Regions from separate parts of the Homo sapiens genome. Here all the other regions are linked to region 1. Evidence: fine-mapped expression QTL. A gene starts in region 1. Each other region holds a variant in brackets. All regions are shown on one strand. Distances are between the middles of the regions.

Evidence for each region. PIP is the estimated chance that this variant, and not a neighbour inherited with it, causes the effect.
Region 2: its variant is the best candidate, but not a certain one, in a credible set for the expression of LINC02044 in spleen (GTEx, PIP 0.63).
Region 3: its variant is the best candidate, but not a certain one, in a credible set for the expression of LINC02044 in uterus (GTEx, PIP 0.84).
Region 4: its variant is the best candidate, but not a certain one, in a credible set for the expression of LINC02044 in pituitary (GTEx, PIP 0.64).

The regions. Positions count from the first base shown.
Region 1 is chr3:113,164,845-113,170,752 of GRCh38, reverse strand. It overlaps LINC02044 (long intergenic non-protein coding RNA 2044), which reads left to right and starts at 3,022. Exons shown (of 4, transcript NR_110823.1): 1 at 3,022-3,152; 2 at 5,547-5,626. All of the region lies in intron 2 of NEPRO-AS1 (NEPRO antisense RNA 1), which reads right to left.
Region 2 is chr3:113,110,042-113,115,949 of GRCh38, reverse strand. The region is part of intron 1 of NEPRO-AS1 (NEPRO antisense RNA 1); the gene reads right to left. Among named protein-coding and RNA genes, the nearest start is that of LOLI1, 8.6 kb to the right of the region's middle. The variant A/C (reference allele first, on the strand shown) is at 2,973.
Region 3 is chr3:113,123,633-113,129,540 of GRCh38, reverse strand. All of the region lies in intron 1 of NEPRO-AS1 (NEPRO antisense RNA 1), which reads right to left. It overlaps LOC124906268 (a long non-coding RNA gene), which reads right to left. Exons shown (of 3, transcript XR_007096005.1): 2 at 5,017-5,244; 3 at 2,075-4,141. Among named protein-coding and RNA genes, the nearest start is that of LOLI1, 22 kb to the right of the region's middle. RefSeq lists an enhancer at 4,970-5,471. The variant T/C (reference allele first, on the strand shown) is at 3,213.
Region 4 is chr3:113,133,046-113,138,953 of GRCh38, reverse strand. The region is part of intron 1 of NEPRO-AS1 (NEPRO antisense RNA 1); the gene reads right to left. Among named protein-coding and RNA genes, the nearest start is that of LOLI1, 32 kb to the right of the region's middle. The variant C/T (reference allele first, on the strand shown) is at 3,126.

The DNA.
Region 1 (5,908 bases):
TGATGGGCACACCCGCCAGAACTTAACCTCCTCGTGAAGGGCTTTCATAATCTCTCATCCCATTCTGCTTTTCTTTTTGCTGCTGGTATATGAACTTTCCAGGCAGCCATTTTTTTCCTCCTAAAATGTACCAAGAAAGGCCTCCCTCTTCCCATTTAACAGGGTTATCCCACCAGACTTAGTAGGTAGGCTCCGAAGACCCCGTTATCTTCACATTCAACTGCCTTTCTCCTTTTGCACTCTCCATTTTTGCTGTATCCTCACCATCCTCTGGGACGCTGAGACTTGAAACTTGAATGGGTCCTTAATGTTGCCTTTTCTTTTGCCCCTCACGTCTGCTCAGGGTTGAGTGCTGTCTGTCCCATCTCTTCCTCATGTCTCCTTCTGTCCTGTTGTTTCCTTTGGCACTCTCTTGAATCTAGGGCAGACAGGAGGGAAGCTGGTCATTCTTTGCCAGACTGCGAACTGTGAGGCTGGGGACTGAAATGTTCTCCACCACTGTGGCTCTGAGACAATGGCTGTGTCACGCTTGACAGGCCCTCAGTGAAGTTCTACTGAATGGTTAACTCGGATGCTGAGTATCATGACTGGGGACTCACTGTCCAGGCAGAGCTCTGCTCGTCTCAGGCTGAGCTCCAAGGCAGCAGAGGAGGGAGGACAGTGGGGAGGCCTGGGGAAGGTGGGCCTCCTTGCACTGCCACTTCCTACCACTTGCTTAAGCCACTGCTCCCTGCCCTGCAGCTGCCTCTTGTTCTCCTCTTACCTCAAACCTCATATCCATACCTTGGAAGAGGTGAGCCTATTGTCTGGGACTAGGAAGTCATGGATCCAGACTTCCTGTTACTTATCTCAGCAACGTGCAGTCACTTCCCATTCAACAATCACGCATTGAGCTTAGGCACACTGCAATTCTTCTTCCATCAGAATCTCTTACCTTCTCTATTGCTCACTTGCTCTGGACTCATTGTGTTCATATAGGATAGTTCTATACAAACATTATGTATGTGTGTATGTGTGCATATCAGGATTGCTTTGAAACTCACCCACTCCACCCATTACACAATTTCACCTACGCGTGAATCAACTCAGAGACCAAAGTGGTGGCTCTCAGTTTTCAGGGACAATTTCAGACAGGGCCTTAACAGACAGTATGGGACATCCCACATTTCCTGCCTCGTGCCTCACCCTGAGATCAATCAGATCATTGCAAGTCTATTTCACAGAATGAAATACTTGAGCTGCATTGTGGTAGATTTTCATTGCCAGGTACTTCTTTTGAACTTCAAAAGTTGTCTCTAACACCCTGGAATTTATGTCTTATCTGCTTAAGAAGATAATCAGGCCACAGTCACACACTTTGCAGAAATACACATTGAACATGCATCTGGGGTATTTGTAAAATATGCTTGGGAGCCTGCAGACAGATGAAGTTTTGTCACTGTCAGGTATTAAAGGGTCACAGAATCAAATCAAGTGCAGAAGCCTGAACCTGCCATGCCTGAGACTTCCATCTGCGATTCACTGGAGAGATGAGGGATATGAGCTTGTGCTGTGCTGGTGCTGAACCCCTCAAGCCCTGTGAAATTAGAATGCTGGAAAGGCCCTCACGTCTCTTTGTTTTAAAAGCCGTGTGTTTTTGGAAAAGCACAACTTTCTGTTTTTTTCCTGAAAGCAAGATTTTTAAATTTCCAAATTATGCTCATAAAGTTTCTCAGATGTCAAACAGGTTTTCATAATAATTATTTTTGATGATTTAAGGGTAAGTAAATAAAAAGCATATGGATTAAATGTCCCTTAAAATATGCATGTTTTAATATTATGGGGTATGGGGGTAGTGCTTGACGAAAGCACTTTGCATTTCACACAGCCCTGATGTTTGAAAAATAGGGCATTTGATGAGTTCTAAACAAGACCAGGTTCTCCTATCTTTGGCAGAACTCTGTGAGCCAGTTTTCTGTCTTTCCAAGAGAAACGGTCTGCCCAATCCTGGGGAACAACAGCCCCCACCCCTGCAAGTAAAGCTTGGCAAACGTGAGCCGTCGTTCTCAGTTGAGAAAACAGGAGTGAAGTAATGGCCACAGCCCGCAGTTACCCCTCTGGAGTGGCCTGATTTATAACTGCCTTGGGAGCCTCACGGTATTACATCGCTTGATTTTGTACACACATAATGTCTTAGCCTTCCCACCCCACAATGTGTTAGGTGGTATTAAAGGTTTTCCACTGGGGCATATAAAATCTTGGCTTTTATCCAAGCCAAAATCCAGCCACCCCTTGAGCATTATAATTGAAGTCTAAATAGAACTTGGCATCATTCTAGGGTCTCTCAATCAATCAACTAACATTAAATGCCTGCTAGAGCAAGCCCTTACTATGATGGGGAGTGAGAGGAAGGGAGAAAAAAGGACATTAAAAAAAGTTCAGAAACACAGAAGACAAAGTCCCAGTTTCAAGCAACTAATGATCTGCTTGAGGGGCTAAGATAAGACACAGGGGAAATGATGAAATGCCACCAGGCAGGTATGGATAAGGGAGGCTGGACTGGGAAGGCTCTCTGAAATAGGAGTAACTTTTGATGGGCCTTAGGGATTGAGCTGGTTCATTCACTTGTGAAAATTCACTTGTGAAATATTTACTGAACACCTACTATATGCAACATACTGGGCTAGTACTGAGGATACAAAGGAGAGCCAGACAGGCCTGGTCCTTGCCTTTGGGCAGCTTGCCTCTGAGTTGGGAAGATAGGCATCAAACAGCTAATTATATCATTCAACCTTCCTTATAATTGTGAGTGCTCCAAAGAAGAAGATCAGGGTACTTGACCAAAGTTAAATGTCTTAAATTTTCCTAGACCCTTAAAGTGTGCTTCACCAATCAGCTTGATATAAAGGCAGAATCTCAGGCACCTCTCCAGTCCTAGTCAATCAGAATCTGCATTTTTAGCTCAATGCCAGGTGATTCTTTTGTACATTAAATTTTTAGAAACAGTACCAAGATAGAATTTTGCAAGACAGCAGAGGACTCCCGGATCACACATGTGTTAGAATATCTGGATTAAATGAATCAGACACCCCTTTTCCTGGATGATATTTATACACCTGAATTGTGTGTTAAGGAGCCTGTGTTGCTTGCGTAGATGCTGAAGAGTGGCCGAGGTAAGTTAACATGCCTCTCAACTTTGCATTATCCATTTGTATCTTATTTTCAGTTATATGTCTACTGGGTCAGGATCCTTTCACGCTCCAAAAGTAGGAGATCTATTCTGTTTGGCATCAATATTTCCCTGTGCCTCCCTCCCTACACTCTCAGTGCTGGCTAATGCTTTCCAGATGAGGTGTGAGCTGCTGCTAATTGTACCCGGATCAGTCTTGATTTGTGTTTCAGTCAGCAAGGCACCTCACTAATGGGTCTGAAACTTGGCAGCAGGCCTGGGACCAGTGTCAAAGGAAACAGATCCGAAAGGCACACCGAGAATGGCAAGGAGACAGGGAGTCGACAGAGAAAGATTTGCAGGATGAAAGGAGGGGGAGGAATCAAAGGGACAGGAGAAAACAGGAGAGCCTTTGGGGAAAAAGCAACAGAGAAACAGACCTGGGAAAGCCGGGGCTGTGGAGGAAAGGGGAGAGGGGCAAACAAAGGAAAAGGCCGGGAGGCAAAGGGAAAAGGAGCAATGCATCTGTATCTCTGAGAGGAGGAAAAAGAGAAGGCAAGATGATCAGGCTGTGTTTTGTGATGTGATCCTGAACGCTGATAATGCCTGTGGTTGCTCACAGAGAAATCCTATGTGGGGAGTGTCAGTCCCATTCCCATCTGCAGGCAGAAATCTGATGCCTCTCGCCTTTTCTCTCTGGCCTCCAGCTTTCCGATGGCTTGGCAGGGAACGCTGAACTCTGACAGCAGCCAGTGAGTGAAGGCTCAAGTTCTAAGCCTGACAGAGTTAAGGGACTCAGACACACCTTGGCTTTATGAGCTGAGGCCCGAGGCAGGGCCTCTGCTGGCTTGAGCTCCTGGAGCCAGCCTTCCTGGAATCGAGCTGGAAAGAGGCCTTCTTAGGGGAAGCTGAGAACTGAGGCCCAAGGCCTTTCTGAATTGGACACATTCACTGTACTTATTTTTTTTAATCTCCTCTATAAGAGGGGGGAAATCCACTTGCCAATATGAATTCCAAATTGTTTAAGTAGGGGAGAACCCATATATGCATGCAAATTTGTGCAGGCAAGCAGAGAGTGAAAGAAACAGGGAAACAGACTGAGGTTACCAGTGGACGGGCTAAACATTGCCTAGGACAATAGCAAAGCAGTGGCACTACCTACCCAGGCTCCCAGCAAGAAACAAATAAGCAAGCTTTGGTTTTGGAGGAAAAGTTGACACCTCAACAAATAACATTAATGTTCAAGCAAAAACTTGTACACAAATGTTTATGGTAGCACTATTCGTAATAGCCAAAAGATGAAAAAAACTCAGATGACCATCAACTGATAAATGGATAAACAAAATGTGGCATACACATATAGTAGAATATTATTTGGCCATAAAAAGGAATGAAGTACTAATACAGGCAATGATAGAGATGAATCTTGAGAGCATTATTCTAAGTGAAAGAGGCCAAACACAAAATGCCACATATTGTATGATTCTATTCATATGAAGTACTCAGAAATGGCAAATCCCCATAGTGACAGTACACAGCTCAGTTGTTGCCAGTGGGTCGGGGGAGGGAGGAATGGGGAGTGATTGCTTAATGTGCACGGGGTTTCCCTTTGGAGCAATGAAAAAGTTCTGGAACTAGATAGTGATGGTTTTGTCACATTGTGAATGTACTCAATGCCCCTGAATTTTACAGCTTAAAACGGTAAATTTCACTCTCTGTGTATTTTACCACAATAAAAACATTTTTTAAAAAGGATTGAAATAATCATTATTGTGAATATCTGAAAAAAATGTGGTCTATCCTAAACTTGATTTATAATTAAATACTGCTTTTATTTGTATTCATATTCAGAGAGTCGTTATAATATTGTAATGTCTCCAACTGTTTTAATATGACCCTGAAGGGGAATGAGAATAAGAAGTTCTAAATAAGAAAGGAAAAAAAGCGATGGAAATAGTAGGGGAAAAGACAAAGAAAGTCAGCTATCTATAGGGTAGGAAATCAGAGTAGGGATGACCTGCTAAAGAAAGGTGGCCAGATGAAGTGGGAGCAAATTAGCTTATGGTGCTTTGCCTAGGGGAGAAAGAAACTTCAGACACAAAGAAAGAGAATAAGGCAAGTCTCTGAGTGGGCCAAACAGCATGGAAAGGAAACTAGAATAAACTGAAAGAGGTCTTCAAAACAAAATAACAAAAAAAGACCAAAAAAACCCAAAAAACAAAAAACAAAAAAAACCCTCCAATTCTTCTTTTATTTCCTGTGAGATGAGTTCTTAAAGCTTATCTTAAATGCCATAGATCTGGGGCTAGGATCTGTGGGTGGGAGTAAGATATTTCCTCTCTGCAAGATGGGGGCCATTCTCCACCAGTAACGGGTCTCACTGCCCTGTTGTCTCCAGCCTGGGAAGTGATGAAGCAGAGGACAGAAGAGCCCCAGTCAGGGATGCAGTGGAGAGCTGTGCATTAAGCTGGCAGTTGGGTAAGATCATTTCTGAAATCTTTTCCAATCCTGTGTTTCTGTGTGTAAATGATTCTAAGCCATGTGCAGGTGCCTGAAAAAAGCGGGGCGTCGGTCAGTGGTTCAGGAGATCAATGTATGAATGTTTACTACATACATGTGCTCTAATTCAAAGGGGATTTGTTGGAATCACATACTGGCCCTTCCCTGTAGAGTGGCTGATGGGAAGACTGAGGTTGAGACTGTAAGTTTCTGACATTATATCCAGTTGTTTGGAATGTAAGAATTTTTAAAAATGTTTTA
Region 2 (5,908 bases), 55 kb after region 1:
AGCATGAAACAAAGATAATCAAGGGTTAACTAGGAGCCACTGTGGGTTGAAAAAGTGAGAAGGCATATATAATGTTAATAACACCCACTCCGAGGGTCTGTGGTGAGCACTAGCCAAGATCACCCAGGCATAAGCCACAGCATGAAGGAGGGTTTGCAAGTTGTTCCCACTCTTCATCTTTGTATTTGAAGGTGCTGCCCAGCATAGGAGTTAAAGAGAAAGCCTTAATGTTCTCAACATGGTTTACTTCCTTAAAATACAGGTAAACTTAAGTTTGCTTCATGTTCAAGAGTCAATAAATATGGAAAACAATAGCAGTCTTTTGCTTTTCTGACACCGGAAATCTGCTTGATCATTTGTATGTATATATGTATGTATTTGAGATGGGGTCTTGCTCTGTCTTCCAGGCTGGAGTGTGGTGGCATGATCATTGTTCACTGCAGCCTTGATTGCCCAGGCTAAAGTGATCCTTCCACCTCAGTCTCCCAAGTAGCTGGGACCACAGGTGCATGTCACCATGCCTGGTAAGTTTTTTTTTTTTTTAATTATTCGTAGAGACAAGGTCTCAGTATGTTTCCAACGCTGGTCTCATACTCCTGAGCTCAAGTGATCCTTCTGCCTTGGCCTCCCAAAGTCCTGGGATTACAGGCATGAGCCACCATGCTCAGCCTCTGATTATTTGTTTACAGAAGGTTTTAAACATCACAATGAGAGACAGGATGATGGCAATGATAATGATGAATAAATACCGGTGTTTTTTTTTTCTAGTACTTCTATTTTTGTAGTATTTCTAGAAATACTACATTTCTAAAAGTTTTTTGGATGGTTTTCCAATTTCTCTGGAGGAGCAATGCAAAATCAATCCAAGAAGCAAATAACATCCAAGCAAAGACTCTGCTGGGGGCCATCAGGAAATGGGTCAACTTCCCTGGAAGAAGCTCATCCATTGCTGAAGAGAAGAACACATTCTTCCTGAAAACAGGAAGCACTTTCTTGAAGGAACATCAAGAAAAGGGCACTACTCTGCATAAGGTGCTCTGGGAAGGAAGAATGAGGACTGATGGGGTGCAGTGAAAAGTATACAAATTATGGCTTTCAATAATGTCCTCTTTTTTGATTCCAAAGAGAAGTATAAAATCTTCTTAGGGACTCCATTAGACCTCTAACGAATATAGCGAGGAACTCTCCCCTTTCCAAAATGAGTGATGAACCCTAGGCTTGAGGAAAAAAAAAGATCTTGATCTTTAGAAGTCAGACAATGGCAAAGTAAACATTTTAATAAAAGTGGACAAAGTTAGTCACATTGCAAGCTTTCTGCCTGCAGAGGCAGCCCTGTGACCATGTGGCCACCATGAGAAAGGCTACTGACATTGATGTCATTTTTTTCCCAGCAAAGAACACTATTCTGGATTCTCTGCACCAAGGGAGATTTAAAAAACAAAAGGTTGCCGCCCACAGTGTCTAGAAACCCACAGTATCTAGAAATACATGTCATTAAGAGGTATAAGAGAGAGAGGATGCGTATGGAGTCTAGGCCTCGGCCCCTTTACAAGGGAACAGGGATTGGGAAAGAAGCCCTAGAATCTCCAGGTTTCTAGAAGTCTTCTTTGTCTCCTTTCCTTTGCTTTGCTCTTACATTTCAGCAGAATGGCTGTTTCCCACTGGGTAAGGACTCTCTAGGGTCTCTCTGAGCTCAAGAGTTTTATCATTAATTATCTGGGGCACAGTAAAAAAGGATGTTTCTGTTCATCTCCTATATTTACAAAGTGTCATTGGACGTAACTAAGGAAAAGTTGTTTTCCTTAAATTTCCAGACTAAAGACATTCGGGGAAATTAAACAACTAGGATTTAAATCCAAATAATGACTATTTGTTTTAGTTTTGAAGGTTTTGCATTGTTTTCCCCAATGAGGACAGTCATAGCTGGTTCTGAGGGGGCAATCCCGCCGGGGAGCAACTCTACTTTTCAGGGAGAATCGGCAGGGCCTTCTGGAAGAAGGGGCATATCCAGGTAACTCATGATTTACTCATTTGCCTCCTTTTTCCAGACTCAGAGACTCTTAAAGCTGGGAAGGGCCTCACAGATTACATGGTCAGTGTTTCCCAACCTGGTGTCCTTGAACAGGTAGGGGATCCTCAAAGGCAAAAAAAAAAAAAAAAAAAAAAAAGGTTCTAAAAGCTTTTCTTCAATAATTTTCAAAGCCTAAAGGGGCTTTTAAACAAATTCCCCACCTCATGATGCTGCCAAGCAATTCAGTTGATAGCACTGCTAACTTATGAGCTTTTGAGGCCCTGGTTGGCTGATGATGACATCATGGCAAAAATATAGGAATAGTAGGCCTTAGAGATAAAAACTCACTTTGTAGTTCAGTAACTGAGATTCTCAGTGGGTTGTAACAAGTTACACAGAATGAATGACTGGATGGGATTTTTCAGAAGCTCCTGAGGCAATAAATGAACTTTCTGTTTCTCAGTTCAAATAAAGTCCCTGAATGAGTGAATATTTAAACTTCTTTTTAGGCCCAAAATTAAGTTTGAATAGGTAGCATTCCACTTTTTCACAGTTTTATTCTGCATGTATAGAATGCTGAAGAAGGAATATGAATATGAATAGCCTGCTTTTCCCAATTTTTCTTGGAGACTCAGAATTTGCCCCAAACCTTAGTTTGCAGACATGTATGGACTCATTTCCTTTTTATTGTACAGGAATATAGCAGATTCCAGCCCCCAAATTTAAAATCCTATTTGTCTAAACGGTCTGTTACTGACGTATTAAACGATGTTAAAAGATTCAGGAGTTTCTTTTGCCAGTGTTAAGCAGGCAAGTGAAGTAAGCTCCACACAAAATCCTTAGCGAATTGCTCTGTTAACCACACAATCTCACCAAACTTAAGTCCATAGAAAACAACATTTTTTAATATTGATGTCCATGTGTTTATAGGTATGTATAAGAAGGCAGGTTGTGACTAAAC[A/C]GGAAAGTTAAAGGAAAAGGAGAGCTGGCCGCAATGATACCGCTACTCAGGAGGCTGAGGTGGAAGGATCACTTGAGCCCAGGAGTTCAAGGTTACAGAGGGCTAAAATCATGTCACTGCACTCCAACCTGGGTGACAGAACAAGACACTGACTCAAACACACACACACAACAACAACAATAAGCCAAAACCAAAAACAAAAACAAAAAAATCCCGGGAGAATCTATTGCTACACTGTGTTCTTCCTCTCCATCCCATCTGGGAAACCGTTTCTGTTCATTTAAATGCTCTTGACTATCAGGGAAGATAAGGTGTTCCATAAGGGCACTATAAGGCTAAGAGACATGATAGTTAGGCAATAGATTTCCTAAAAAATTTCTTTGATGCCGAGCCTCAGGTGGCTGGGGCCATGTGAAAGACGCTCGCTATGAAAGTGAATCTTTATCTTGAGGACTGTTCAAGCTTGAAAAGTTAGCACAGGTCCTAGAGAAATGTTCAAGAAAGAACTGAGCTTCTCTTACATAGTCACTTTATTACTACGAGATCTAACCATCGTTGGTCCCACTGAGATTTCCAGAACACTTGAAAATCCAAAAACAAACAAACAAAAACCACATGAGAAAGGCTTTTAAAGATAATCACTATGTCCTGAGAAGAAGCAAAAGGATGAGAAGAGAACCCGGTGTCAAGAGTGCACTTGGGTGATGGGTGCACCAAAATCTCACAAATTGCCACTAAAGAACTTACTCACTTAAACAGATACCACCTGTACTCCAATAACTTACGGGGGGAAAACAAAGCAAAAAAAAAAGAGTGCAATTGGAAGAGAGGTACTAGTCATGACTGTTTGCTTCTCCCTGGCTATAGTTTGTGCTTTTTAAAGTTATTGGGATACAATTCACATACTGTTTTACCGTTTTAAATTGTACAGTTTAGTGGGTTTTAATACATTCAGAAAATTGTACAACCATCACCACTATCTAATTCCAGGACATTTCTTTCCCCCAGAAAGAAATCCTGTCCCCATGAGCAGTCTTTCTTTTTTGAGACAGTCTCACTGTCTCCCAGGCTGGAGGGCAGTGGCACTATCATAGCTTACTGCAGCCTCGAACTACTGGGCTCAAGGGATCCTCCCACCTCTGCCTCCCAAGTAGCTGGGACTACAGGCATGTGCCACCACACCCGGCTAATTTTTTTTTTTTTTTTTTTTTTTTTTTGTAGAGACAAGGTCTTACTATATTGCCCAGGCTGATTTCAAACTCCTGGGCTCAAGTGATCCAATGAGCAGTCTTGTTGACTTGCATGTAGGCTTGCCTCAAGTATACCACACCATTCATCCCTCTGTTCATTCAACCAACATTGTTTGTTGAATTACCCCATGCCTGGAGCACTTACTAAGCTCCAGGCATGGTGTAATTTTGCCCCTACCCTTTGCAGCAGAGGCCTGCACAGCACAGTGTCAAGGATTACCTTAAGGAGCAGAGTTTTCTTTAGGGTTACAGCGGAGTGTGAGATCGTGGGAGATAAGGGTGAGTCACTGATCAATGGCTCAGTGAGAGTTGTGGGGAAGGAATTGAGGCTGACAAAAAGTACACAGTGAGGTTATATGTTCTTCAGGAAGGTTTGCTGTGCTGTTTAGGTTCCTTTTTAAAAGTTCATGGCTTTCAGGAGTTGTTACCTCCCCAGAGGAGGTGTTGGCCGGCAAACTAAACCCTGTACATTTTTAGACTCCTACACCTCTCCTCCACATTTCCTGCTCTGTCCACATCCAGCTGCAAAACTTCTTTCCATTTTTGACAATTTCCATATCCATATTCATTTCTTTCACGTGGTTGTCTTTTGCATGTCTTTTTCCAATCATTCCTGCCCCCACCCTGCTGCCCTGGTGCCCCTCACCCCCGGTGAATCTCTTCTGCTTTTGTGGTCTCTTCTTTCTTCTTCCATTTTTCTTCCTTTTTACTACTCTTTGCCCTCACACCCAAGGTATGCAGCAGGCTTGGATGAGAGAGTCACACGGAAGGGACTGTTTATACGTAAGAATGTTTGTCTTCTCTCCAGACGCACTGACACTTAGGGAGGGAAAGTGCGAACTCTACTCGCAGCCTCTCCTTTGCTCATGCCATTATTTATAATTATGATAATAGAAAATAATATTGATTTAACTTTTACTGTGAACCAGACACTGTGCTAAATTCTTTTCAGACTTTATCTCATCGAATCCTCACAACAATCCAACAAGGCAAGTACTATTATGACCTCCAGTTCACAGATGGGAAAACTGAGTCTTGGCGTGATTAAAGCACTTGCTTAATATCCTAAGCTAGTAAATATCGGAAAGTCACCCACAGCCAGCTCTGTCTGACTGCAGAGCCTAAGGTGTGACTTTACAATGCCTTACTTACTTTCTGGGCTTCTATCCTTCCTCCAACCCACCTCCTACTTTAAGTTAACTCCCTCTCTCTTCCTAAAGTGAACTCGGCAGTCCAGTTGGCTTCCTTCCAGCTTCAGTGAGCTGGGGAATCCCTGGCATGGGCTCAGCTATAAGTTCTATAGAACATCATAACTGCTGGTACTAGGGCAATAAAATCTTAACAGTCTCGGCCGGGCACAGTGGCTCACGCCTGTAATCCCAGAACTTTGGGAGGCCAAGGTGGGCAGATCACCAGGTCAGGAGTTTGAGACCAGCCTGGCCAACATGGTGAAACCCCATCTCTCCTAAAAATACAAAAATTAGCTGGGCATGGTGGCAGGTGCTTGTAATTCCAGCTACTTGGGAGGCTGAGGCAGGAGAATCGTTTGAACACGGGAGATGAAGGTTGCAGTGAGCCGAGATCACGCCATTGCACTCCAGCCCAGGTGACAGGATGAGGCTGCGTCTAAAAAAAAAAAAAAAAAAAAAAAAATCTTAACTGTCTCCACAGAAGACGACTGTAAAT
Region 3 (5,908 bases), 41 kb after region 1:
GTTGCCAATGTACTGTGTCCATGACTATCATCGGTGTAGGGGAGGAGAGAAAGACAAAAGGGAAGGTAGAGGTTGGGAGAGACAGAGACAGAAACAGAGACTAACTTTCACTTCTGGCAGAACCTTTTGGAAGCTGTGTCTTTTACTGTGATGAAACATCAAGGAACCACAAGGGCTGTGACTGTGTCTTGCTCAGTATTTCCAGTGCTGAATAAGGTGACGGACATTTATTAAATATTGCTGATTTCATAATATCAACGTTGGACTAACATTTTATAAACAATAAAATCTTTAGGAATACACGTTCTTGGAACATTTTACATGGTTTTGGGATTTAATTTAGCCAAAATGAATCCAACTTTCCTAGTTAGCTTTTTAAATGTGGCTAGCTTAATTCCTTTGCCTTTTGTCACTTATTGGTTCAAGGTTGCTGGCCCTGGGGTCTCAGGATACTGGGCACATGCCGTTTTTTAAAGGGGGCCTCCCTGTGCCCTTTTCTCCATCAGAAATTAACACAATCCTTACGCTTCAAAGTGAAGTGGGGAAGCACATTCATATTCAAATAAGAGTTTTCGCTCTGATTTAAAAATAAATAAATAAATACTTTAGCTCAAATTTATGCTTAATCTGAAGATCCATGATCCCTTCATGGAGTGCGGAGCTGCTCATGTAGGGGGATCGGTGGAGGTGACTCATTCTGCAGAGCAGCAGCTGCAGCCGTCACATAGACAAGCCGCCAGACCCCACAGGCCAGGAGAAAAGAGACAGGGAGAAGGAAAAGGAGGAATGAGTGCTCTTAGAGCAAAGAAACAGCCTTGTGCTTGCATGAAGTCCTGCAAGGTTGAACGCCTCTTCAGGTAATTCCCTTCTTCTTGTCAGTCATTATTCCATCATTTCTTTCAGGAATCACTTGCCAGCAAGCCAGTGTCCTACCGTCATAGACTGTGACTTCCTGGAGTGCAAGCATGATGTCTTATTCATCTCTTAGTCATCCTACCCTACACTTCATGCCTAGCATGGTGGGGGCTACGAGTAGATGTTTGAGGAGCAAGTGATACCTCAGGAGTTGGGACCATCCTGTAAACTACAACTAACTAAGTGACCCTGAAAGGGGGGCCATTAAACTTCTGCTGCCAGCCCTAACTGAGGGCGTGGGTTGCTCACTTTTCAGTTTGCACAAAAGCTCATTTGCTGCTGCTTTCATCATTTATTTGATTCCTCTGCTTTCAACAAGTTGGTGTTGGGAAAGTTCAGCTAACTATCCCCACAGCTCCCCATGTGCAGTGTGGGAAGAATGTTTAAAGCTGGCTTCATAGAAGGAGTGAAGGCTAATGTTCAGTTCGGAGGAAGGATAATAGCTGGAATGCATAGTTCAGCGTCTGTCTCTGCCATTCAGGGGCTGGGACATTGGAAGGTTTGCTTCTATCAACAGATTAGTTAAGAAGACATTGAAGGGCATAAAGGCCACAGTAAGATAAGTTCTAAGACTTGTAAATACAGTTTAAATAAGAGTTAAACCACTAAAATCCACACACAATTGATGTAATTAGTCATCTTTGGAAGTAAAGTAAAAAAATCATTTATAAATGTGTGAGCCAAGAACTTAAGGATGCCTAAGAAACCAATCAAGGTGAACTTAAGAGAAATCTCAGGGAACCAGCAAGGGCAGTACTTAGAACCCAACCAATTGTACGCATTCTGCTTGAAGAATGCTTTAGAACAAAATGTCTGGGGTGTGGGGTGGGTACAAAGAAATGATCAGTTATAAGAATAAAGAAAAAAGGGGCCTGGTGCGGTGGCTCACGCCTGTAATCCCAGCACTTTGGGAGGCCAAGGCAGGCGGATCAAGAGGTCAGGAGATCGAGACCATCCTGGCTAACACGGTGAAACCCCGTCTCTACTAAAAATACAAAAAAAAAAAGGTTAGCCGGGCGTGGTGGCTCGCACCTGTAGTCCCAGCTGCTGGGGAGGCTGAGGCAGGAGAATGGTGTGAACCCGGGAGGCGGAACTTGCAGTGAGCCGAGATCGCGCCACTGCACTCCAGCCTGGGTGACAGGGTGACACTCCGTCTCAAAAAAAAAAAAATAAATAAAATAAAATAAAGAAAAAGGTGGGGTGTTGCAGAGGCAAATGTTGGTAGACCCACTAAGGCACTATAACAGCTCTGGACAGAGTCTTCTTGTCCTTGACTTGCTGAGAGAGCCTAAAGCATCTCAATGGAGAGACACTTCTGAAGCTTAACTCACTGCCTGCATTCTGAGCCAGTGTGCTGATTTGGCCAGAGTGAATAACCAGTACTCTTATTAGTTGTATTTTTCTGGGTAAATTAACAAACTGGTGTGTGTGTGTGTGTGTGTGTGTGTGTGTGTGTGTGTGGCTTGGAGGCTGTGTCAGCACCTGGGGCATGGAGGATGCTACTCTAATGATGTCAAGAGAGTCAGGATCTGGAGTCTGAAAGGACAGTGATGAGTCTCTGAGGCCAAGGCCATCAGTGGGCCTTCTCTGCATCCTTCTGTGTCATAGGCTGAGCTGCCCATTTTCAGGTGCAAAAGAAGATACTCTTCAAAGATGATGGCCATTCCTTGGCTTCCAACCAAGGCTATACTTTTCTTCAATGCTCTCAAACTTTTTGACTATGGGGAAAGTCCCATGGCTAACTTACCTCATCTTATATAAACTACCCCCTGCAAAGCCATATTTCAATATTTGTAAGGCTTACAAGGTAGACTATGCTAGCCCGTTGTGAGCCTTAGACTCCCGTGTGTGTCACGATCCCAGCCACAGGACTTCTACTGGAATTTTACAGCAGAAGGGCACTGTCTTTCTTGGCAGTCTGTTCAGCTCTGCGAATGTGCCCTGTCTCCACTGTGTGCTGGCTGCACAAAACACCTCTAATTCCTTGAGATGAAAGTTGCCACCAAAAGCAGGAAGTGCCTGTAAAGATGGAGGGGTCAACTCTAGGGGCTGAGGGCTGCAGAAGCTATGTTTTCACTGGGAAACAGACTAGAGTGGGAAGGTGAGATCTGTAATGATGGAGTGGTCTGCTCCTAGATAATTAACATTCACACCACAGAAGTGAGAGGAGAACCAGTAGGATGTAATAAGGCCTAGCAGAAGGTCTTTCCACACACACACACACACACACACACACACACACACACACACACACACACACAAGCTTTAAATGGTTCTATAGCGATAGCAACTGTCTT[T/C]GCTCTGCTCACAAGCCTGGCCAAGAGCTCGGGCTCCCTCTGTGATGACAAGAAAAAGGGGTCTGAAGGGGCCAGACTCAATGCATAGGCAGACCCTCCATGGGGAATCTGAGATGAGTGCTGTGTAAAGGCTTTTCTGTCCCAAAAGCTCTATGTTGTGGAAATGATGCCTGGAATTATCCAGCGTCAGGAACTTGCACCTGGACCGGAAAGTCAGGACCCTTGGCTGGAAAGTATTGAGTGGGGAGAAGAAGTGGGTTTGGCCCCAGATAAAGAGCATTGCTTAGGGACAACAGCAAAGAATAGGGGTAAGATCAAGAGCAACTCAAGAGCCACCTAATTCATGGGTAAGAACAAATCAGAAGTTGGGAGAAGAACACAGAAAAGGAAAATAGCTGAATTCAAGCAAAAGAAGCATCTCTGTGGTTTTGCCCACAATCAGTTGTAGTCACAGATACCATATTTTAAAAGTAAAAACCACGTCTGTCATCAACTGGTCATAACAACTCAAAAATATTTTTTAACTCTACATCTCTTACGCATTTTTTTTAGGGAAAAATAACTGAACACAGTGAACTGTATTCTTTGTTTGCAGGACTCTCCTTTTCATTTTTATACCAGATTTTTCAGCCAAGAATATTTGTCCTAAAGCTATTTAATAAATGAGCTGGTTGAAGACCTCACAACAGATTGCTGACAGCCCCAGTTACTTCTTTAAGGCAATGCCCATGAGCTGAAATGCTAGCACATACTCATGGACACAAACTTACTCAGAACTGCCTTCAGAAAGATGCAATTTATGATAGTACAGGGCAGCAGAAGGTCACATCATGTAAAACATGGGCACACAAAACAAAGCAAAAACAAGTAATTATTAAATTTTGTGAGTCATCCTGATAATAATGGAATCTTCCAGATACTTTCAGCACCTGAAAAAGACACAGAGTGTGGCATTTAGACTAGCACAGAGAAGGCACTCTTTCCAGTAAGGTTACTGAGTTTTATGTGGCATCTTATCGCCTGTCTTCCTTCTGGCACTTCCTAAGGAAGGGTGATGACGATATGCTCATTCCCACCACCATCAGTTCAGGGACAATGATCACCCTATTGACGAAGTTGGCCCAGGTGATTATGGTGGCACACATAGGCGTAATAAGCAGCCATAAGAAACGCAACCTCAGTTTTCCCACTTATTAAATGAGATTAAGCATCCCACTTAGGCATGATGCATAATCTCAACCTACTTCACTAGAAGACTGTCTGAACATAGAACAAAAAGAAGCATGCCTAGCTAGATGTAGAACAAAAAGAAATATGCCTAGCTAGATGTTCTGTGGAAGGGCATGATACAAAGTATTGCAACTGCTATATGTTAAGAAACAAGTAACTCTAGGACCCTGAAAGGTTTTATGCAGAAGTGCATGCAAGAGTTTCATTTTGAATCTCATTAAAGCATCCCTCACTTATTAAGTGTAACATGAATCTTAACTGAAAAAAATTAAACTACTGTGTAAGCATTCCTAGAGTATGGTCTAAGTTTAAATGAAGCTCTTGTTTAATGATATCAGCCATAGTCTCATTCTGCAGGTGCCTTGTCTGCACATCTTTGTTCTCTCCTTTCTTCTGGAAACCAGTAAGCCCTCAGTATGTGTGTGTGTGTCTGTGTGTGTGTGTGGGTGTGGGTGTGCGCGAGTGCGCGCTCACGCGCCCACGCGCCCACGCCCCCACGCCCACCACTTCTTGTCTGCTGGGGACCCAGTGGGTTCAGGTCTCAGGAGGAACACAGAAGCTGTGCCTGCATTACCCAGTGAAGCTTTGATTTCTTTTGTTCCTGCTGCTGGAGCCTCCTTGGCTGATTAAGTCTGAGGCTTCTTCCAGGTTTTGTTGGTCCATGAATGGAGCCTCTTCAGTGCTCACTGGAGTGCGGTATCATTGATACTTCCTCCGCCTGGCTCCCTCCCTCTCCCAGCCCAGCAGAGCTGATGGATTAATCCTGTTGTGCGCTTGTAAGTCTCCCAGGCAGAAATGTAAGCTAGGGTAGAAAAAGATGGCTCAGGTTGGATGGGACCACAGAGACCTTCCTTTCTATACTCCTCATTTTACTTAATTAGGCTTCAAGAGGTATAGGGCAGAGCAGTGAAGGGCCTGGCCCAAGTCTCTCAGAGGGTTGGGGCAAGTCTAGACTTCCCCAGGGCTTTCTACTTTACTTGTTCCAGCACAGGCCCTTCTCAGTGGGAAGCCTGCAAGAATTTTTTTGCCCTTGCTGTAGAACAGTAACATTGTATCTACATACAGAACAATAACACTGTATCTAGATGCATCTTTTACATTTTTACAGCAAAGTGAAGGACCTGCTGACTAAAATCATAGATTTTTCATATGGGAAGTGAAGGGAATCTGTAGTACTTTCTAACAAGAGTCGGAAAACTGTCTTGTTTGCTAATAATTGCTTTGCCTATAATTTTTATTTTCCTGCCATATCCTCCAGTTTCACACATATGTCCCCAAACCCTTAAGTCTGTGGATTGCCTGTCTCCAGCATAGGAAGAGACCATGGCTTATGACAATTTTCTTCTTCAGAGACAACATTTTATAGCATTCATCACTTCCTGACATTATATATACTTATTTGTCTGTCTGCCCTCACTAAAATATAGGCCTCATTAGGATAGAGGTTTTGTTTTGTTCACTGATGT
Region 4 (5,908 bases), 32 kb after region 1:
ACAAATTTGTAGTTATGCAGGATTAGTAAGTCTAGAGATCTAACATACAGCATGAGGACTACAGTAAATACAACCTTATCATAGACTGAAAATTTGCCAAGAGAGTAGATTTTAGGTGCTCTTAACACACACACACACACACACACACACACACACACACACACGAAGTAACTATGGAAGATGATGGGTGGGTTAATTTGCTTGGCTGGAGTAAGCATTTTACCGTGTATAGTTATATAAAAATATCATGTTGTACACCTTAAATATATACAATTTAAAAAGCCAAACAAAATACAAAATCAGCAACTCTTCTTAGATCTGTCAGAGAAGTGAGGCCACAGGGCAATCACTGGCCCCAAAATTGGAGAGACAGACAGGTGGATACAGAGCATCCTATGGCATATCCCAAGTGATCACATTTTAACACAAAGAAAAACACCAAGAAATTCCAAAATGTAAAAATAGTGCAGAAGGCATTTTCTGTTCATGATGTAATATAGCCCGATCTTAATAATAAAACAAAATAATAAAACAACAAGATATTCTAATATCTGGGAAAAAAACCCCAAAACTCTTTTTAAAGCAACTCTTGGATCATAAAGAAAATCAAAATCAAACCTAATATTCAGAAAATAAGAAAATGTTTAAATTTAAAATAAAAATATGTTTTAAGGAAAGATAGAAGATAGAAGCTATGAAGCTATATGAAAAAGAAAGCAAGGAAATGAAAAAGAATTCAGCATGATCTTTATCTCTGGTGGTTGGAGGAGTAGTATGGACAGAAGCAGAGGGAGGGAATGGGAGGGGCAATATAGGTAGATGGAGTTTATTGTCAAGACGCATTGGGTGATGGGCCCATATTTTAAAAATTATGTTAAAAAATGGAAGAACTAAACAAAAGATGGCTATGCATTTACCAATGATGAGAGTGTAACATAAATTAAGGATGATGATTAATCCAATTCTGTGCCAAAAACTAATTTAGAAATAACTATATACTAGAACCTAAGGAGTGCAATTTAAAGCAGTGCTCAGAGGAAAATTCATAGTCTTCCATATGTAGAATAATAAAAAGACTGATAATGAAAGAAGTAACATCTGACTCAAAGAATTAATAAAAAGAACTGAATGATAATAATAAACCTAAAGAAAGTAGAAACTAAAAGCAGAAATTATTTAACTAATAACAAACAAAGTGGTATGTGTAGTGGTCAGATTGAAATAAATTATGGACTATCTGTACAGTGCAATACTCTGTGGCTATGAAAAAGGGAAGAGAAAGCTCTCTCTGGATTGATAGGGAATAATTGCCAAGCTATGTATAATAGCTAAGTAAAAAAAAAAAGCAAGGTGCTTTTGTGTAACGTATGCTATCATTTGTCCTTTGTGTAAGAATCAGGAAAGATAAAGAATATCCACACACACACACACACACACACACACACATATATATGCACATATGCACTTATATATGTGCATGTGTGTATATATACATATATACACATATATATGTATATATATATACACACACCCCTGCACATATATGTAATTGCTGGTATATGCATCTCTCTGGAAATATTCATCAGAAACTTGAAGCATTGGTTGCTACTGGCTAGAAGAAAGAGTAGAAGGGACATTTTTTACTACCCTTTTGCACATTTCAAATTTTGAATCACATGAATGTGCATACTTATTTAAAAATTAAGTTAAATAATTGGCAAGTAAATTATTTCTAGTTTTTAGAAATATGGAACTGAACAAGCCTTTAAATTTAAGATCATAAAATATAGCAAGAAATAGTTTTATTTTTCTAAATAACATTTTTATTTTCTACGTATATATTTTTCTAAATTATGTATTCCAAGTCCAGTTATGAGAGAGAGATTGTGGGAAATGAAAGGAGTGATAAACCACAGGAAAAGAGAGGGACCATGGGAAATGAGACTAAGAGTTAGACGGGAGCCCAGGAACCTATGCCGAAAGAGAGGAGCCAGACAATCAGGGAAGTTTGGTGAAACAGAAAGAAGTACAGGCATTCTACAAGTTCTAGGATCAGGACAGTCGGGTAAAATGTTCTTGCAACAATGCCTTCCATCTGGGACACGAGCTTTAGAGCAAACTATCCTGTTACAATAGTCTTTGAAATCATGTGAGAATAAAATGTTTATTTTTTCCATTGAAACCTAAGGGTTTTCTCATATGTGAAAAGAATTAACAAAGGTTTAAGAGAGTCAGTTAGGAACCTAGTATGTCTTTGACATTCAAAAGTGGTCGAATTGCTTCGTCTTTGTTCACAAGAGAATATGCGTTCCACTATTAAATGTCAGGCAGCTGTATTTGAAAATAGTGTTTATTTCACCTTTTAAAAGCCTCCCTTGACCACAAATAAGTCTAACTCATGAGGCTATAAATAATGTTTTATTTTTCCAATTTTTCAATTAAAAATATCAAACTCCTGGAGGAGCCACCCTTAGAAAATGAAGCACAATATCAGCTTAATAAAAGAAAAATTTATGTTTCTGGTTACAATATCTTGGCTTGAATAATTTCATCTCAGAATGCAAATGTAAGATAGAGTGAAGTTAAGTTGGGACCCAATCAAGTTTTGAAGATTCCCATTTCTGGCGTATAAAATAATGCAAGTTTAACGTTTTGGGAGACACCATTACCTCTGTTGCCACCTGCTGGTAAACATATGTCTCATTTAATTCAGTTAATGGCTCACCCCGATTAAACACATTTTGGATCTTGGAGATAGATTTGCAGCAAAATAACTTCTGCTGCTTCAGAAGTGGTCACTGGTTTACGGATGCAGTGGCTGATGCATCACAGGGACTGGCTGTGCTGAGCTATGTCCCTTAGTACGTAGGACAGCCGAAGACAGCTTGCACTGGTATGTGGATTTAGACAGGCCTTCCTCTGGCAGGGCCTCCTGCTCTCCCAATTCTTTAAGTTTGTCTATTCTCATGTCCATCAAAACATAGGATTCTTCTCCTTAAGGAGATCAGTTTTTAAAAACACTGAATGATTCTGAGTCTTAATTTAAAAAATTTTAATCAAAGGCTTTTGACCCTCCAAATGAACATGGACCACACACATATATATACTCATGCATACAGTTGCTT[C/T]ATTTTGGTTCTGAGGTTGAAGTCAACACTGATGAACAGAGATGCTTTTATTTATTCTGCATGCAGCCTTTCTCTTCCTTCTCCCACTCATATGCTTTATTCTTCTGCTCTTTCAAAACCTGCATTCCATGCTCAATACTTGTGCATTTAGCTGCAACACAAACACTCATAACTCACAGTGTGGCTAATGTTTACACATTTTCTTATAAACATAAGGAGCCTACTTTATCTGGAACCCTCACTTTATCTGGAATTTTAATAAGCAGAAGGAAAAAATATGACCATTTTCCTTCTATGGTACCACTTCATGATGCTAATTGGTCATTATGTTCCCCCAAAATACTGTAAGATTCTGATGTGGTTTTGTTACCCATTTACTTATTTAAGAATAGTTGGGTGGTTGGTTTCAAGTTTTTGGTGATTCTGACTAGAGCTGCTATAAACATGCATGTACAGGTTTTTGTGTGAGCATAAGCTTTCATTTCTCTACAGTAAAAACCTGAGGGATGGGATTATTGGGTCATTGTGTATGTTTAACGTTTTAAGGAATTGCCAAGCCATTGTCCAGAGTCGCTTTACTACTTTGCATTCACATGTGCAATGCATGAGATTTCCAGTTGCTCCGCATCCTTGTCAGCACTTGGTATTGTCAGTATTTTTAATTTTATATATAATGGTAACACATTGTAGTTTTAACGGACATTTCCCTAATAATGAATAATTGTTGAAAACTTTTTGTGTACTTACTATCATCTAGCTATCCTTTTATGTTAAGTGCCTGTTTAATTACCCATTTTTTTACATTGGTTTATTTGTTTTCTGTTGCGTTTTGAGAGTTCTGATATATTCTGGTTATGTCTTTTGGTAATGTAGTTCTTGAATCATCAAAAAATGTATGAATATTTAAAGTTTTTTATTGTAAAGTTTTTAATTATATTTACTTCTTGGTGATTTACATATGCAAGCCACATAAGTCTATTAATTAAACTTTTCCATCACCCAGAACTGTGTGTATTTTGAATGATTGGGTGCTTTTTAAGGAGGCCCAGAGGGAAAGCTGGTAAGCTGCCCCAATCAGAGTCTGGAAAGAGCCATTTGGTGGATTCACAAAGGCAAGTCCAGGGTTTTTAGTCTTTAACTTGAAGATTCAAAAATGTGACTTGGTTGAGCCAGGCATGGTGGCTCATGTCTGTAATCCCAGAATTTTGGGAGGATGAGATGGGAATATTGCTAGAGCCCAGGAGTTTGAGACCAGCCTGGGCAACATAGTGACTCCCTGTCTCTTAAAAAAAAAAAAAAGAAAAAAGAAATGTAACTTAGCCAGTGTCCCAAGAGCTGATCCCATTTGAGGACGCTTATTCATGCTAGCAAGGCTCTCAAGAGACCAAAGTGCAAGACCAGGGTAGCAGCTAATGCACTAAGGGGGCCTCTTATGTCTTCTCCTATAGCTCCATCTGATATTCACAAGGTTCCTTGAGGAGCTTGGAGTTGGAATAAAGGGGATTTAGCTGTATCAATGGTTGTGACAGAATTTTTACTAGGTCATGGTGAAAAAAATAAGCATAATTTAACTTTTCTTAATGGATTCAACTTAAAGGGCTACCCTTTATTTAGAGATTGTATCCTTTCTACAACTTTGGCAAATTCCATATGAATTTATTTTCTTAGGGTGTATTGATGACTTACTGGCCTAGAAACAATTCTGAAAGTAAAGAGCCATTTTATGTTATAATTTCAGTCCTATCACCTGGATTTCTGAGACCTTGGGAGCTACCTCCCTCCCACTTCCTCATCTATATGTGTGTAAGTCAACTGAACTTGGCATTCAAGGCCCTATACAATCTGACTCTTAGCTTCCAATTTTATTTCAATTCACCTTACCATGAGAATCCTCTCCAGGTAAACCAGTCTTCTTGAAACTCCCAATATGCTGTGCCTTTTCTTGCCACTGGATATTTGCTGTATGATTTCTAGCACACCACTCCCTCCTCCACTGATCTTCTTTGATGTCTTTTAAGCCCGAAGTGAACACATACTCCTCTGGGTTCTTATAGCACCTGTCTTCGGTACCATTCCCAAAGCATTTATCCCACAATATCTTTCATTGTGGGTGACTCATGTGTGCTTTAATGAATGATCAGATAGTGCCCCCACTGGATGGAAAGCTTCTGAAGGGGGAGAAATAAAGGCCCACTTTTTTAGAAATCTCAGCATGTCTCCCAGCAAATAGCACAGTGCTTCTCACAGCAGGTGCTCAATAAGTGTCTGTTAAAGGAATGAATGAAGACATAAATGTACGAGAAACAGTATATTTAAATTCTTGCAACAGAATTCCTCTTTTCACCCATGGTTACCTATGTATTTTGATACTTGAACACATTCTTATACACACATCCTATATAAATATACAAACCGAGGGCTCCCTTGGGCTATCTCCTCAGACGTGTGAGTCTGTGAGTGTGGCCTGCACATCAGCATGCCCAGGCAGAAGGAAAAACAAGCAGGCACTCCCAACTGGGGAAGTCATTTGCAGCTCTTCCCATTATTACTGGCTGAATCTCTTTATTTAAAACAAACAAAGAGCTGGAAGAAGCAACTCAAGTGGCCAGCTATTAGCAAGTTCAATTATCAAAACACAGACCTGGTCTTTAAACCTATAAAACAGCAAACCCTAAAAGTCTGCTCCTGACCTTTAGCATCTCTGTGGCCAGCTGAACCTCCCCTAGCTCTCTCTTTAGGACCCTTAGGGGCCACGCGTTCATATCACAGGGAGGCTATTTTTA